Linked DNA regions of Homo sapiens: region 2 is linked to region 1. The links come from fine-mapping of genetic effects on gene expression. Tissue or cell type: whole blood. Region 1 holds a variant in brackets; the other region holds the start of a gene. All regions are shown on one strand. Distances are from middle to middle.

The links. PIP is the estimated chance that this variant, and not a neighbour inherited with it, causes the effect.
Region 2: it holds the start of TPH1, and the variant in region 1 is fine-mapped to the expression of TPH1 in whole blood (TOPMed, PIP above 0.99). The same link has a PIP of 0.9 or more in sun-exposed skin and thyroid.

What each region holds. Positions count from the first base shown.
Region 1 is chr11:18,068,707-18,076,815 of GRCh38, forward strand. No RefSeq gene overlaps it. Among named protein-coding and RNA genes, the nearest start is that of TPH1, 26 kb to the left of the region's middle. The variant C/T (reference allele first, on the strand shown) is at 3,990.
Region 2 is chr11:18,041,214-18,049,322 of GRCh38, forward strand. It overlaps TPH1 (tryptophan hydroxylase 1), which reads right to left and starts at 5,056. Exons shown (of 11, transcript NM_004179.3): 1 at 5,028-5,056.

The sequences.
Region 1 (8,109 bases):
AGGAAAGCTAAAATTCAGAACCTCCCTCTACAGGTGAGATATGGCCAAGCCCTGGGTTGGAATGAGAGTGGTCTGAGTGATTTCCTTGTTAAGTCCCAAAAGAGGAGTGGGTGGAAGCATTTATCTGCTGTCCTTAATTGTCATGGAGGGTGGGCAGTGGTGGAAGGGTGCTGTTGAGCCTGCATATAAACTACAGGGAGATATTCTCTCACTAAATATATACATCACTTATAGTTGTGTAATCCTCAAGAGACCCCCACATCTCCGACTAGCATAGAAGTTGGAAGAGTGAAAGTACATAGCTTCAGGAGAAGTGAGATGGACCTTGAACTTTCAGAAACTGATGGAATGAACAGCTATTAACTAGCCCCCTTGTCTTCCTCCTATCTTGAATTGTCACCTCCTTAGTCCCACTAACTGAGCACAGTGCTTAACACACAATAAGTTCAAATCACAATATACTTTGGAATGAATGAATGAATGAGAAGTGTTAATCTACAATTCAGTTTCTCTCTTACGGGTTCAATAAGCTTCAACAAAGCACTTGGTGATCACATATTGGAAATTCATCTTTGACTGAAGACATGACACTCTCAATAGAACCTATGTTCTATTAACATCCCATTTCTCCCAGGGAGGGCCACATCGTCCGCCCACTGAAACTCTCCAAGGTCCAATAGCAATCTTACTGGAGTGCAGTTTGAGAGAACTGGTCAAGAGTGATGATAGGGGCTTTACAAAGAAAAAATTGAGCTCAAATTTTAGAGCAAGAAAAAATGGATTTTAACCAAAGATAAGTATTCCCAAACTCTACGATGTGGCAAATAAGCTGATGGTAGCTCCTCTGTATTAGACACAGACACAGATAAAAATCAGTAGACCAATCCAATTCTTCTACTAACAATCACATCAACTACCAAACTTCTCTTCTGCTCCTTCTGCACTTGTTTCCAGAACCGACGTCCACTCCCCGGGACAACCCGCCACATGTACACTGGCTCCGCTGCCCAGTGTTTCTGTTGTTTGGAATTATTTAGGCAGAGCTGTAACCCCTTTCCCATAACTACCCCCTCCCCACCATCCAATTGCTTTCTTCTGGTTCTTTTTATCTACAATTTCAAAAGAAACATTTTGGCTCCCATTGGCAACAAATCCTTGAATCTCTTTCTCATCATTTCTCTAGATGAGAGGCTTAAAGGGGAAATAAGACAGGAAGAATTTTTTTTTCTTTTTCAATTAACTTCAATTTCTTTCAAGTCTAAGTAAACTCTGGCCCCAGAACAACCAGGATGATATAATTATGGAAACTATTAATCTCTCCATCAAAGGAGAGCCAGCTCATGGTTACGGAGCAGTTGGCACGTTCCTCCAAAGGGTTTCTGCAGCATGATGTTCCTGGTTTCCCTCGGAGTCACAAATGCTCAGGGTACACCTTTTAGCAAGTAGGCAACTTCCTAAGAAAATGAAATAATCCATGAGTACTTTGTGAGTTGTTCTGGGAAATTGGGCATTTTTCCTTAATTGCTCTAAAGAAATAGCCAACTCACACTAAAGCATGTTCAAACAGAATGAAAGAGAAAAATCTAACATTTTCAGATCAGTCAAGGCTCATCCAAAATTGTGAAATTTGGATCTTTAAAGACCAGTCAGATATCACTTGATGTGAGCAACGAACAAAGGGGTGCATCTGGAACAAGAAGTCTCCAAATTGCTTTGAATATTGAACATCATGGAAATGGCAACAATCTCTAGAGGTCACTTAGGACAAACAGAACAGTTATCTGGTTTGTTCAAACCTAAAATAAATATAAAAAGAAATTAGAGAATTTAATTTAGAGATTTTATTCCAGGGCATCAACAAACTTTTGTTCTTCCAATGACAACAGAGTACAGACTTCTCTGTGATGGGGGGCAGGGGCAGTGTTAAAGGATTTAGGAGTTTCCTCCAGAAATTCCTGCCAATTGGCTTATTCCTGGGTACAGATAGGAAAAGTCCAACACCAGTTGCATTTTGAAGGAAGCACATTCATAGATTGACAAAGGCCATCAGCCTTCCAAAATACAGCCCCCCAAAAGAACGAATTTGCAGAGATGCCAAATTCCTCAAATGGTTTAGGTTCAACAGGCACCACTCAAAACAAAACTACATGATCGTATGTTGAGTGACATAATAAAGCCATAGTATATGCATTTGCTTGAATTGTGGGCTGTGATTAATATATACAATCCTTACCCACTGACTGCTTTCAATGTATACTGCTTCCTGGAAGCAAGCCCATACTTCAGGAAGTCAGGCTTCTCCAAGGGAACGGGAAGCCTCTTTGTTCCTTCTTCCCACTATCCTGTTGTTGGAGCCTGCATGCACATTGGGCCTGAGCAGGAAAGTGTCACTTCTGTGAAGAGACTGTTCACAGAACTTTAATTTCTCTTGTAATCATATAAAGCCTGAATGGTAAGGGGGAAAACCCATAAAGGTCATTATAAACAGATCCCGTGATGTCAAAGGAAAAACAGCTGGAGAGAGGGAGTTTAATAAGCAGCCTTCTTTTATTACAACAGGCTTGACGTCATTGATCATTTATTATTTCCAACACTAAAACATAAAGCCATGTGCTACACTGTGGACCAGGATGAAAAGGATATGTGGACTTTTCTGAGTATTTTAATATCCTTTTATTGACAGTAGATAGAAGATCTGAACAAGGACTGGGAACAGGAAATGATTTTAGCGATTTCATTACAGTAATAGAGAAAAGCATTACCAATGGCAGCATTTGGCAGATGGTCTGGTAAGTCCTGAACCTCTAAACAGCCTGCAGGTCAACAAGCTCAATATTGATACAAGGTCAGTATGTAATTATGAGGTGTTCTAGCAAGCAGAATAGTTTTTATAAATATGGGCTGTAGCCTTGGCAGTGGAACACAGGAAGCTGGTGTTTAAAAGTTAATTTAGGACGGGTGCAGTGGCTCACTGCAGCCTGTAATCCCAGCACTTTGGGAGGCCGAGGTGGGTGGATTACTTTAGGTCAGGAGTTCGAGACCAGCCTGGCCAACATGGTGAAAACCCATCTCTACTAAAAGCACAAAAATTAGCTGGGCATGGTGGCGGGCTCCTGTAATCTCAGCTACTCGGGAGGCTGAGGCAGGAGAATCACTTGAACCCAGGAGGTGGAGGTTGCAGTGAGTTGAGATCGCACCACTGCACTCCAGCCTGGGTGACAGAGCGAGACTCCGTCTCAAAAAACAAGGAAAGGTGTTTAGAGGCAGCACAAAGTATACAATAAGACCACGACTAAAGAGTTCTTGATGCTCCAGTACAAATCAGATTTGCAATGAAATATCAAGCATGGTACATCTTTACTTAGTTTAGCTCTAGTGAAAAATAAACATGGCTGTAGAATTTTCAGAGTTTTGAGACTTTTCAGATCTCACTCAAGAAAACCTAAGAAGTGATCAGCCAATTCATTTTAACCAACATCAAACATCATTTTGGTGAGGCCCCCTTAGAAACAGATTTCCCTGGAACAAAACATTAGTGTTTGGAAGCTCCCTAATATGTGAGATTTGTACAGGCCTTTACAATTTCCAGTGTTAGTTTAATCTCATTAACACTTCAAGTAATCCTGCAGGGTAGGCAATTTAACCTCATCTCTACTCTATAGATGAGGATGCTCAGAAAAGCTAACTGACTTGGTCAAGGTCATACTGACCCTTGATCACCTTGATCAATGGTTTTCTTTTTCATTTTCACCACTAATGTGTGTTCTATTTCTGTTTGATATGATCTATTTCTGTTCAATATTCTATGTATTTTAACAAAATCAAAATCGTATTGCATATCCAATGTGTTGTTTCCCTTTTTAAAAAACATGCTTCCCATTATGCCATACCTGCTTGGTCAAGCATGGGTGTGAAATATAAGTTCCTTACAGGAAATATCCTTATAGGAAACCTTTCTGTAGAAGGCTATGATTTTGAGTGTCCAGCGC[C/T]AATTCATCACACGGAGCTACTTTTCCTAAGCCCTAGGTGGAGCAGTCATGTTCAGAGGTGAGAACAGTGGATCTGGTGTTCAGCTTCAAATGTACTATTTCCTTGTGAACTGTCACTTATAAGCTGTAAATCTCTCCCAATTTAGTCCAGTGTCTCTGTACAACCTGTCTCTTTCATCGACATTGTTAGCCCTTTAAATGTTTGTATTCCTTGGAGCTTTGTCCTAAGTCCTTAAGCTGTATCTCTAGCCCACTCTCTCACAGAGTTCCAAGTCTGTATGGAAATGGGACATCTCCATGTGGATGTCCAACAGGTATTCAAAATTGAACACGTCTTTTACCCACCTTTACCTGCAACTCTTCCTGGATTACTTCCCTATCATGATGAATGACGCCATCATCTATTCAGTCACCTAATCCAGAATTCTGGATTTAACTTCTCACTCTCCTTTGCTTCAAACTGATGCCCAAATCCAGTTGTGTCTACTGCTAAACCTCTCTGTATCAAGCCCCTCCTCCCTCAGAAGGCTTTCAGTGATCATGACACTTTAAGGGCTTCTCACTGCCTTCAAGGTCACACTCAGCATGGTGATGTGCCACTGAGGACCAGAGAGTTTCCCTTTTCCACTACGTTTTACAAAAAAATCCTCCTCAGCCCCATGAGGCCTGTGGTTTAGATCTCAAGGACACACAAGAAATCAATCAGTTGGCTCTTCAGAACCTTATATCATGGATGGTTTGTGTCTCATCCAGAATTGGGGAACTTTCACTACCCTGCATCCTACCCTTCTGTAATCCCACAGACACTTCCACATTTTCTCTGTCTGTCACTTATTACACCATTCCCGGTGCCATTTTTTTTTAAAGATGGGAATGCAAATGATCATATCCCAAGTAGAATTTATTATAAGTTAAATTTACTATAGCGATTTGGGCATATCTTACAGACAACCTAAAGCAGGAATTACTGCTGGAACCCATGAGACTGTGACATGAAGCTGGAAAGCGGCTGAGCATTAAGGCAGCTTTTCTTTCATGCTGTTTCAGTGAGAGGTTACTTCAGTAAAGACGTGTAACAAACTACCCCAAGATTCAATGATTCAAAACAATAATCATTTAACTACTCATCACAGATCTGTAGGTTGGCTGCAACTCAGCTAGGTTAGGCTGGACTCCAGGTTGCAGATTAAAAAAAAAAAATTTTTTTTAGAGGATGCGGTCTTGCTCTGTCACCTATCCTGAAGTGCAGTGACACGACTATAGCTCACTGCAGCCTCAAACTCCTGGGCTTCAGGCAATCCTCCTACCTCAGCTTCCCAAGTAGCTGGAATTACAAGTGTAAGCCACCACACCCAGCACCGGCTGCAGACTGGGTTTAGGTTTGCTCCATGTTTCTCATCCTTCATGGATCAATGGCTACCCAGGGCATGCTCTTCTCACGGTAAATGACAGGAGCACAAGCAAACTGCTAAAAGTACTCTGCTTACATCAGCTCCATTAACATTCTATTGGCCAAAGCAAGTGACTTGGTCAAGCTCAAAGTCAAGGGACAGGGAAGTACACTCCATTCACGGAGAAGCCATGGCAAGGGCACGATACACAGAGGTGAAGAATCGAGAATAATGATCCAGTCTGCTACAGGATGCATGACCTCTATGCAGACCAGCTTCTTCCTCTGTTCTTCTTACACATGACTCTGGAATTCCAGGCCCACTAGGTCAAGATTTTTTCTGCTTTGTCCACAGTATTTCTATTACACAGATTTTGTCTGTTTTGTTTACTGCTGTCTTCCTAGTCCTTAGAATACCTGGTACATAGTGGATGATAAATATGACTGGCTGCCTCCTCCCAAATAGTGCCCTCAGCCTTGTAAGTTACGTGGTCTAGAGTCCTGTGTCCTTGAGCCAACCTGAGTTGTCCAGCTTGGGTTAGGAGTAATTCCCTTATTAAACCATACGCTGTAACCGGGGGAAGAATGTGGGCAGTCCAGCGGCAATTTTGGAGAAAGGAACGTGGATGTGCAGATAGCCTAGCTGTCTCTTCCATGTGATCTATCAAGACCTTCATGCTCCAGTCCATGCCTCCCCACAGTATGCAAGTACAGTATAGTGGCTAAAAGAATATTCATTAGGCTAGGCAGGTCCAGATCCAAGCCCTGGGTCAGCTACTTACTACCTAAATAACTTTCAGCAAGTTATTTTACCACTCTGAATCTTCATTTCTCCATCTATAAAATGGTGACAATTACCTTATGGGATTATTGCAAAATTAAATAATATACCTAAAGACCTTTACAGAGCATCTGACACATAGTAAATCCTCAATAAATGGCGGTCATCTCTAACAGGAAATTAAGTCTGGTGTCTACCACATCCTTCTGTGTCCTGAGGTAAATTTCGTATCACACTCATTTTAATTTCAACTTTAGTTGATTGTGTTGGGTCACACACTTAGCCCAAAGTAGCCAAATCACAGGTGACTCACACTGCTTGATACAAAAAGACTAGTAACTGCGCAAGAATTTCTCTCTCACAAATTTAAAGAAATACCAAGAGAATAAAGTGATTAAGCTGGCAGAACACAACCCCCCAAAAAAGACAGGCTGGTGTGGTCTTGAGAGACCACAGACAAGCTGAAGTCCTAAGAAAGAAGAAACGGAAATAAGGAAGCCAGGTGACACAGGGACTCAGAGCAGACCCTGATGCCACCTCCTTGGGTACAGATCCTCTCCCCTCCAGGTCTAATTTCAGTGTGGCATGACCCTCTCCCAGAATTGTGATCCTTGCCAGAGCCCTGAGGCATGAACAATTAGGATAAAATGAGAATGCCCTACTCCATGATGTTACTACACTATAGAATCTTGCAAACGTCCAGGGAAAACACAGTTGTTCAGAAAGGGCAATCACATGGGCACAATCATAATGATAGAAGGAGTAGCCTGATATTACGAAATCCTTGGCTGTGAAATGTGAACTTATGGAGGTTTTCTGGCTTTTATATTACAGATGTTCCTTGGGTTGTATAAAATTGGATTTAAGCAAATGTGACCTCATGCAAATTATCTAAGATACATCATAAAAGCTTAGCGATGCAGATTTTGCATTCTATATAGAAATACAAAGCAGTCAGGTTGATGAACAAATAGTATGAGAGGTGAGTGGAGGGCTAGCAGCACCACCACAAGGTTCCCTCCTGCTTCCAGTCTCACCTGTGGTTTTTTTTTTGGTTGCTGGACTGGCCCACAAGACTCAAGACTACATTGGCCCAGGCTCTTGTAAGTTTGACTAGCCCAATGACATAAAAGGAATAAGCATCATTCATAATCAAATTAAAGCTTAAGTTGTGTATCATTTATTTGCTTTTATAAACCTTTAACAGGAAGGCCAGGTGTGGTGACCTGCAAGCCCAGCACTTTGGGAGGCTGAGGCAGGATTGTTTGCAGCCAGGAGTTCAAGACAAGCCTGGGAAACAGTGAGAACCCATCTCTACAAAATCAATAAATAGGCCAGGTGTGGTGGCTCACGCCTGTAATCCCAGCCCACTGAGAGGCCAAGACAGGCGGATCACCTGAGGTCAGGAGTTTCAGACCAGCCTGGCCAATATGGTAAAACCCTGTCTACTAAAAATATAAAAATTAGCTAGGCTAGGCATGGTGGCTCACGCCTGTAATCCTAGCACTTTGGGAGGCAGAGGTGGGCGGATCACAAGGTCAGGAGTTTGAGACAAGTTTGACCAACATGGTGAAACCACGTTTCTACTAAAAATACAGAAATCAGCCGGGCATGGTGGCATGCGCTTGTAATCCCAGCTACTCAGGAAGCTGAGGCAGGAGAATCGCTTGAACCCGGGAGGTGAAGGTTGCAGTGAGCCGCGATTGCGCCACTGCACTCCAGCCTAGGTGACAGAGCAAGACTCCGTCTCAAAAAAAAAAAAAAAAAAGAAAGAAAGAAAGAAAGAAAGAAAACCCACAAAATTAGCCAGGTGTGGTGGTGCGTGCCTGTAATCCCAGCTACTCAGGAGGCTGAAGCAGGAGAATCGCTTGAACCTGGGAGGCGGAGGTTGCAGTGAGCCAGGATCACACCACTGCAATCCAGCCTGGGCAACAGAGTGAGACTCTGTC
Region 2 (8,109 bases), 27 kb before region 1:
CAGCAAGCTCCTCCAGAGTGGGGACAAGGCTTTCTATTTATTTTGTAAACTAAAGGCCTGGCCAGCTCTAGATACATATGCACTAGATGGATAACTGCTAGCCAGGAGAATTCTAGTTCTGCTTCTCAGAAGATGAACCAGAGATCTACTTTGGTATCTTCTTAACCACCTATTTACACTGCAAAACAGTGTAAGGAAATATGTGGAATGTGAAGTCAGACATATCTAATCATTGGCCTCATGTTTATCAGTGTATGACCTCGGGCATGCTACTTAACCTTTCTAATATAAAACTAAGTTACCAAACAGCTACCAGAACTCATAACATCCAAAATTCTCACTCGTTTTAAAACATCATAACATGGCGTGCTATTCTGAGATTTTCCTCACGGAAGAAACTAGGATATTTCAGGTACCAAGAAGAGTTAGAGATACATAATTCAAAATTTAACTAACATTTATGAATTCATTGGGTTCAAGTTTCCAAAACTACCAAGATTTTTAAATTATGCCAAATTAGTCTCTAGAACTAAAAACAATTTCTATTTCAAATGCTATAAAACTAAATGGCCAGTTAAACTGAATAATTATGTGGATTTTTCTTTGATTCAAATAATTACTAATGGTAAAACGAATAAAATTTCAACCCAAGCGCATTCACATGTGTGAAGCACCACAGTCAAAGTTAGGGCAGTAAAAATTTAAAAACAAGACAACTTGCCTCCAAATAATTCACACACTTGTTCATGGGGAAGGAGAAAATGGAAGACAGACTTCTCAATAAGTACAAATAAGCAGAAAAGAAGGGACACTGAGATCCCAGCCATGACACCCAAGGAGTACACTCAACCACCCCTCACCTTCCCACCACCCCACCCCTTTGATCAATATCCCATGTGCTTCTAAAGATGACTGAATATAGCTTCTAGCCCATCCATGAGTCTCTGCTGAGAAAGGATTTATGGATGAGAAGCAGGAGATCTTAAGAGATTTTCCACTTCAAAGGAAGTGACCATTTCTTAAGGTAAACTTAAGTATACACAGAAAATTCCAAATTGGTGGCTCTGGGGCTAAAAATTCAGGGATGGCCTCAGATAAGCATTCTCAAAATGTTTTTAGGGATGTGAAAACTTTCAGAAACGTTTCTTACCCATTCAATTACCACTCAAAGATTGACTTTTCTTATCAAACACAGAGTATGGGCGACGTTGTCCTAAAGCGTGAAAATGTAAACAATAAAAGAGATGCAAAATAATATAACAAATTGCTAGTAATAAATCTTTCTGCAAATCCATCTAGGCAAGTTATAATCTTTATATGTATCAACCTCTTTATTTGCAAACTTGGAGGGAGGATAATTAACACCACTCTCATGATTATAAGGAGGATTAAACATATATAAACTTATGAGAATTAAATAGTTATAATTTACATAAAACTCTTAGAACAGTTGCTAACCTACACTAAGTACTCAATAAGTATTATCTCAAGTAATGGGGAATATGTCCCAAATTTTCCAGTTTTCAAAAAAAGAGAAAATGTTCAAGTAATGAAATAGACATTCTAAATACCTCTGGCTAAGAATTTTTCTTGCCCTAGGAATTAGGCATTTTACAAGATGGTTAACATATTTCTTACAATAGCAAACATGTGGAAAAGTTGCTTTATGATATAAAATGTCAGTATTGTTTTGTATCAAGGTGATTTCAGTTTCATTAATTTATTATAAAACCCCTAAAGTGTATTAAATTCCAAATCTCAAGAAAATAATTCAGCAGTTTTTTTGCAAACAAATAGACAAAGACCCCAAAGTAAAATGTACTGAGTTACCCTATAGTTACTGAGTCCTCATGTTTCCTGATACCATCACCATGACATGCAGAAGGAAGAGGATTCTGCAAATATAAGCTATTTCCTGGCCAACCACTAGCTTCATCATGTAAATCAGCTTTAAGAACTGGGAGCAAGGATCAGAGAACAGTAAAGAAAAGTTACCACTGATTTTTTCCAGTCAGTGGTAACACTAACAGAATTCTAGATCTCCTGATAATTTGTCTTTCAACAACCTCTTGGAGCTTGGAATAAAACTCTTCATATAAAACTATATGAGGCCAGCTGCTGCGGCTCATGCCTGTAATCCCAGCACATTGGAAAGCCAAAGTGGGTGGATCACTTGAGGTCAGGAGTTGAAGACCAGCCTGGCCAACATGGTGAAACCCCGTCTCTACTAAAAATACAAAAATTAGCCTGGCATGATGACACATGCATGTAATCCCAGCTACTCGGGAGGCTGAGGCATGAAAATCGTTTGAACTCAGGAGGCAGAGGTTGCAGGGAGCAAGATCGTGTCGCTGCACTCTGGCAGGGCAGTAGAGTGAGACTCCGTCTCAAAAAACAAAAACAAAAACAAACAAACAACAACAACAACAAAAACTATTATGAAGAGCCTGGGTAACATAGTGAGATGCTGTATGAACAACAACAACAAAAAAAATTGTTTAAGTTAGCTGGGCATAGTGGCTTTCACCTGCAGTCCCAGCTACTAGGGAGGCTGAGGCAGGAGGCTTGCTTGAGCTCAGGAGTTCTAGGCTGCAGTGATCCATGATCGCGCCACTGCAGTCCAGCCTGGGTGACAGAGTGAAACCCTGTCTCTTAAAAAAAAAAAAAAGAGAATTTCCTTCAATTTTCAAAACTGGTCCCTAAGCTTTCCTGGAAGTTGCTATTGTGAGAAGGTGCTAACAGTCATGGCTCCATCCCTTTAGGGTTCATAATTATTTTCTTTACCTGATTCTGGAATGGATCAAGTTTTGTGCCAACATCTCCTTAGTTGGTGTGGGGAGAGGAGGGTGAAGGATACATTAATTGAAATTTATGATATGCAAGGCATTTATATTATTTTGATGTATTTAAAGACATACATTATTATATTAAGATGTAAGTGGCTCACACCTGTAATTCCCAGCACTTTAGGAGGCCGAGGCGGGCGAATCATGAGGTCAAGAGAGCGAGACCATCCTGGCCAACATGGTGAAACCCCGTCTCTACTAAAAATACAAAAATTGGCTGGGTGTGGTGGCGGGCGCCTGTAGTCCCAGCTACTTGGGAGGCTGAGGTAGGAGAATGGCTTGAACCTGGGAGGCGGAGGTTGCAGTGAGCCAGGATCACGCCACTGCACTCCAGCCCAGGTGACAGAGCAAGACTGCGTCTCAAAAAAAAAGATGTGGAAACACTCCTCCTTGTTTAAGTCATGGTAAAAATGAAGGTTCTCAAAAGGAACTTTTGCTAAGAAACTAGAAAACTAGAAGAAAATTCTCACCCTCTTTTTTGTTCCCCCCCACCCCAAAATAATCTTACAGGACATAGATCTTTGATCGTTACTAAAACTTGGCCATAACTTTGCTTGGTTGACAGAGCTTATGAGGCATCAGTTATTTTTTCCTCCAGTTAACCCCAAACCGCTTTCAGAACCTCAATATTTTGCCTTGTTACTTTTTCCTTTCCCCTTTCAACCTACCCACCTCCTCCTACTCTTTCAGGAAAACAAAACAAAACAAAACAAAACAAAAAAACACAATACTAACCTGGTAAGATAAAATAGGTCACACTTGTTTGAATCAGTGTCTCATCAATACATAAGCATTTTATTTTTAAAGCAACTCTCTGATCAGCTAATACCAACTGGTACCCTTTTCTCATGAAAGGTAGAGTCATTTTCCTACTGCGTCTCCTGGCCTAAGGATGCACTGTGTAGGACATACCACTGGAAATAAGGAAAAAATACCAAGAAGACACTCAGAAGATCAACAGACCCGACCCTTGGGAGAGGTCAAGGCGTATACAATGACCAACTCTTTTCTTCCCTTAGTTTAATCAGTAAAACAAGTGTAATTTATATTTACCGGATCTAGGAAGCACAAAGCACTACTGAATTAGTCTTTTGAAAGCATGGATATTGTTTGAAGACAGAACTAAAAACTGCAAGGAGGATTCTTTCAGAGGGAGGGAATCCTCTACGGAGTCTTGATTTTCTTTTCTAAATAAGGAGTGGGAATGAGGATGAAAGTGTAGATGAAATACAAAAGAAAACACTATCCATGAAAAACAGTATTCTAGGAAATAAAGGCACTGGCAGAGAAAATGGAAATAGAAGACACATCCCTATCTGGAGATAATCTAATAATACATGTACAAATGGACCTCAGTGATAACATATGTAAACCACAGATTATAACTTTACAGAAACATTGATATTAGAATTCCACCCCCCCCTTTTTTTTTTAACTAACAGGCACAAACTTTTCCTGGGTTAGCAAGTTCAACTCTAGTCTTTTTCCTGCTAAGTCAAGTAGAGTGGGACATCAATGAGAAGTTCATTTTAAACCTCTGAAAATCAAACGCCAAAGGCAAGGTTGAGTTCACACGGACTCTTAACTGACTCTAAACCGCAAGGACCTAGTCCTCTTTGTCAATTGCGACCTTGCAAAAAGCTCTCAGTCGTCTGTTGGGATGGTGGTGATGATGGTAAGTGCGATGCTGAGAAGCTTTGCATCTGAGACTCCTTCTTCTTCGGGAGGCTGTTTAAGGGAAGCTTCCCTTCATGGGAGGAGAAGAAAAAAAGAGACATTGCCCTTTGATGGAGAGGAAGGGAAGGAAGAAAAATCTTACTGTTTCTGCCAACATAGAGGAGTCACACAGACTTGGGTTGGACTCTGGACCCCACTTTCCTCATCTGGGGACTCAAGAAATATCTACCAGAGTTTGTCATGAAGGTGAAATCTCATGATGGCTAAAGAGTCTGTTCCTGGCACACAGGAGGCACTCAGAAAGTGTCTTTTCTCCCCAAACAGCGTGGGAGGAAAGAATAGTAAGCGTTTATAGGGGTACAACTCCGACCTCCCAAATCTGACTCCGCAAGACCACCAATTTACCTCCCGGGAGGGTGACTCTGCCCAGCCCCGCGCCTGCCAAGCGCCGCCAAAGCCTCGACGGCGGTCCCCGGTGCCCGCGGGAAGGGCCGCCTCACTCACCTCGGGCGCCAGTAGGTGCAGGCTGGGTCGGCCGGCGGCCCCGCGCTGCCTGTCTCTTATAGAAGCGGGCGTCGGAGCAGCTGGGCAGCGGCCAATGAGAAGGGAGGGCCGGCGGGTGTGGGGCGTGGGCAGTCGCGTCCGCCTGCTCCCAGAGACTTGCACGCCTCAATCTCTGCGTGTATCTGACTGGTGTTTTAATTAAGTGAATGTTAGGCCGTCCTTAACCACACAAGTCTGACTAACACTGAACAATCCAGAGTTGGACATTCTCTCCAAACCAAGATAACGCCTATTATCGACACAATGACCTGCTATAGGACTGCAGTGCTTCTCGCCTGTTGGAGACCAAAGCAAGAATCCCCCCACCTCCCACACCTCTCTGTGCTTCTGGGCTATTTAATAGCCCAGTCCTGACTTATTATTCTCTTGGTGCTTTCCCCCATTCCTTGAGGCAGAGCAACAGTTAGTTGAACTTTTTAGAAGAGAAGTGTTCAGTGCCCTTCTAATTAAAAAAAAATTTTAAGCTGCAAGCAGAGAAGCATTCTATATTAGCAAAAAATCATATTACGTGCTATTGTGAACAACAGGACATAGAGGCAAAAAATTTGGAATAGGTATTTACTGGTTGAGTAGTCAGTCGATTAGCTCCTTATCCCAAAGGACTGTACACATAACGAAGTATATTATAGGACATTCTTTCCTCCAATGTTTGAAAAGTAAGATTTATTGATGTATAATTAACATACAGTAATATTCACCCTGTGAGGTGTACAATTCTGAGTTTTGACAAACATGTATAGTTGTGTAACCACCAAACGATCAAAATATAGAACATTTCTATCACTGCGAGAAATTTCCCTTGTCTAAAGTCTCTCACCTCACACCCAGCCCCTGGCAGCCACTGATCTGATTTCTGTCTCCACAGTTTTGCCTTCTCTGGAATGTCACAGAAATGAAATCATGAAATATGTACAGATTTTTGGCTCCTGGCACTTAACATAATGCTTTTGAGTTTCATGCAGGTATTAGTGATTTGTTCCTTTTCTTTCCTGTTTTCTTTTTTGCTGAGTATGGATGTACTTTAAAGCTCAGGATCTTTACAGCTTTTCTATGCATTTTTCTTTTATCTGTATAATGCTTCTATGAGGTACATATTATTTGTATTTTACAGATACGGAAATTGAAGCACAGGGGTGGCTCTAAGACGTTATTCTGGCACAGGCTAGTAAGTACCATCAATAATCAAGCAAAAGTGTCTGAGTTTAAATCCAGTGCTCTTACTTCAATGCCATAAAAAATACTGGTCAGGGAGAGACCTTTCAGAACCAAGCTGAGGTCAAAGATGTCTTTCCTAAACTGAAAGCCTTTCCTTGTAGATCTGGAACACGATAAGGATGCCCAATTTCACCACTATTATTCAACATAGTACTGGAAGTTCTAGCTAGAGCAATCAGACAAGAGAAGAAATAAAGGGCATCCAAACTGGAAAGGAAGAAGTCAAATTATCCTTGTTTGCAGATGATATGATCCTATATTTGGAAAAACCTAAAGACTCCACCAAAAAACTATTTGAACTGATTAAATAATTCACTAATGTTGCAGGATACAAAATCAACATACAAAAATCAATAGCGTTTCTGTATGCCAATGGTGAACAGTATGAAAAAGAAATTAATCCCATTTACAATAGCCACAAATAAAATAAGTACCTAGGAATTAACCAAAGGAGTGAAAGATCTCTACAATGAAAACTATAAAATACTCATGAAAGAAATTAAAGAGGACACCAAAAGAACAGAAGGCTATTCCAAGTTCATGGATCGGAAGAATCCTTATTGTTCAAATGTCCATGCTACCCAAAGCAATCTACAGATTCAAGGCAATCCCTATCAAAATACCAAAGACTTTCCTTACAGAAATAGAAAAAACAACCCTAAAATTTATATGGAATCACAAAAGACCCAGAACAGCCAAAGCTATCCTGAGCAAAAAGCACAAAACTGGAGGAATCACATTACCTGACTTCAAATTATACTGCAGAGCTACAGTAACCAAAACAGCATGGTTCTGGCATAAAAACAGACACATAGACCAATGGAACAAAATAGAGAACCCAGAAACGGATCCACACACCTACAGTGAACTCATTATTGACAAAGTTGCCAAGAACATACAATGGGGAAAGGACAGTCTCTCCAATAAATGCTGCTGGGAAAACTGGATATCCATCAGAAGAATGAAACTAGACCCCTATCTCTCACCATATATAAAAATCAAATCAAAATGGATTAAAGACTCAAATCTAAGACCTCATACTATGAAACCACTGCAAGAAAACATTGGGGAAACACTCCAGGACATCAGTCTACTCAAAAATGTCTTGAGTGATACCCCACAAGCACAGGCAACCAAAGGAAAAATGATTGCATGGGATCACATCAAGTTAAAAAACTTCTGTACAGCAAAGGAAACAATTGACAAAGAGAAGAGACAACTCACAGAATGGGAGAAAATATTTGCAAAGTACCCATCTGACAAGGGATTAATAACCAGAATATATAAGGAGTTCAAACAGCTCTATAGGAAAAAATTTAATAATCCAATTAAAAATGGTCAAAAGATTTGAATAGACATTTCTCCAAAGAAGACATACAAATGGCAAATAGACATATGAAAAGGTGCTCAACATCCTTGGTCATCAGATAAATGCAAATCAAAACTACAATAACATGTCATCTCACCCTGGTCAGGCAATAACAAATACTAGAGAGGATGTGGAGAAAAGGGAACCCTTGTACACTGTTGGTGGGAATGTATAATAAATTAGTACGACCACTATGAAGAACAGTTTGGACGTGCCTCAAAAAACTGAAAATAGAGCTACCATATGATCCAGCACTCCCACTGCTGGGTATATACCCAAAGGAAGGAAATCAGCGTATTGAAGAGATATCTGCACTCTCATGTTTGTTGCAGCACTGTTCACAATAGTCAAGATTTGAAAACAACCTGTGTTCATCAACAGACGAATGGTTAAAGAAAATGTGGTACTTACACACAATGGAGTACCATTCAGCCATAA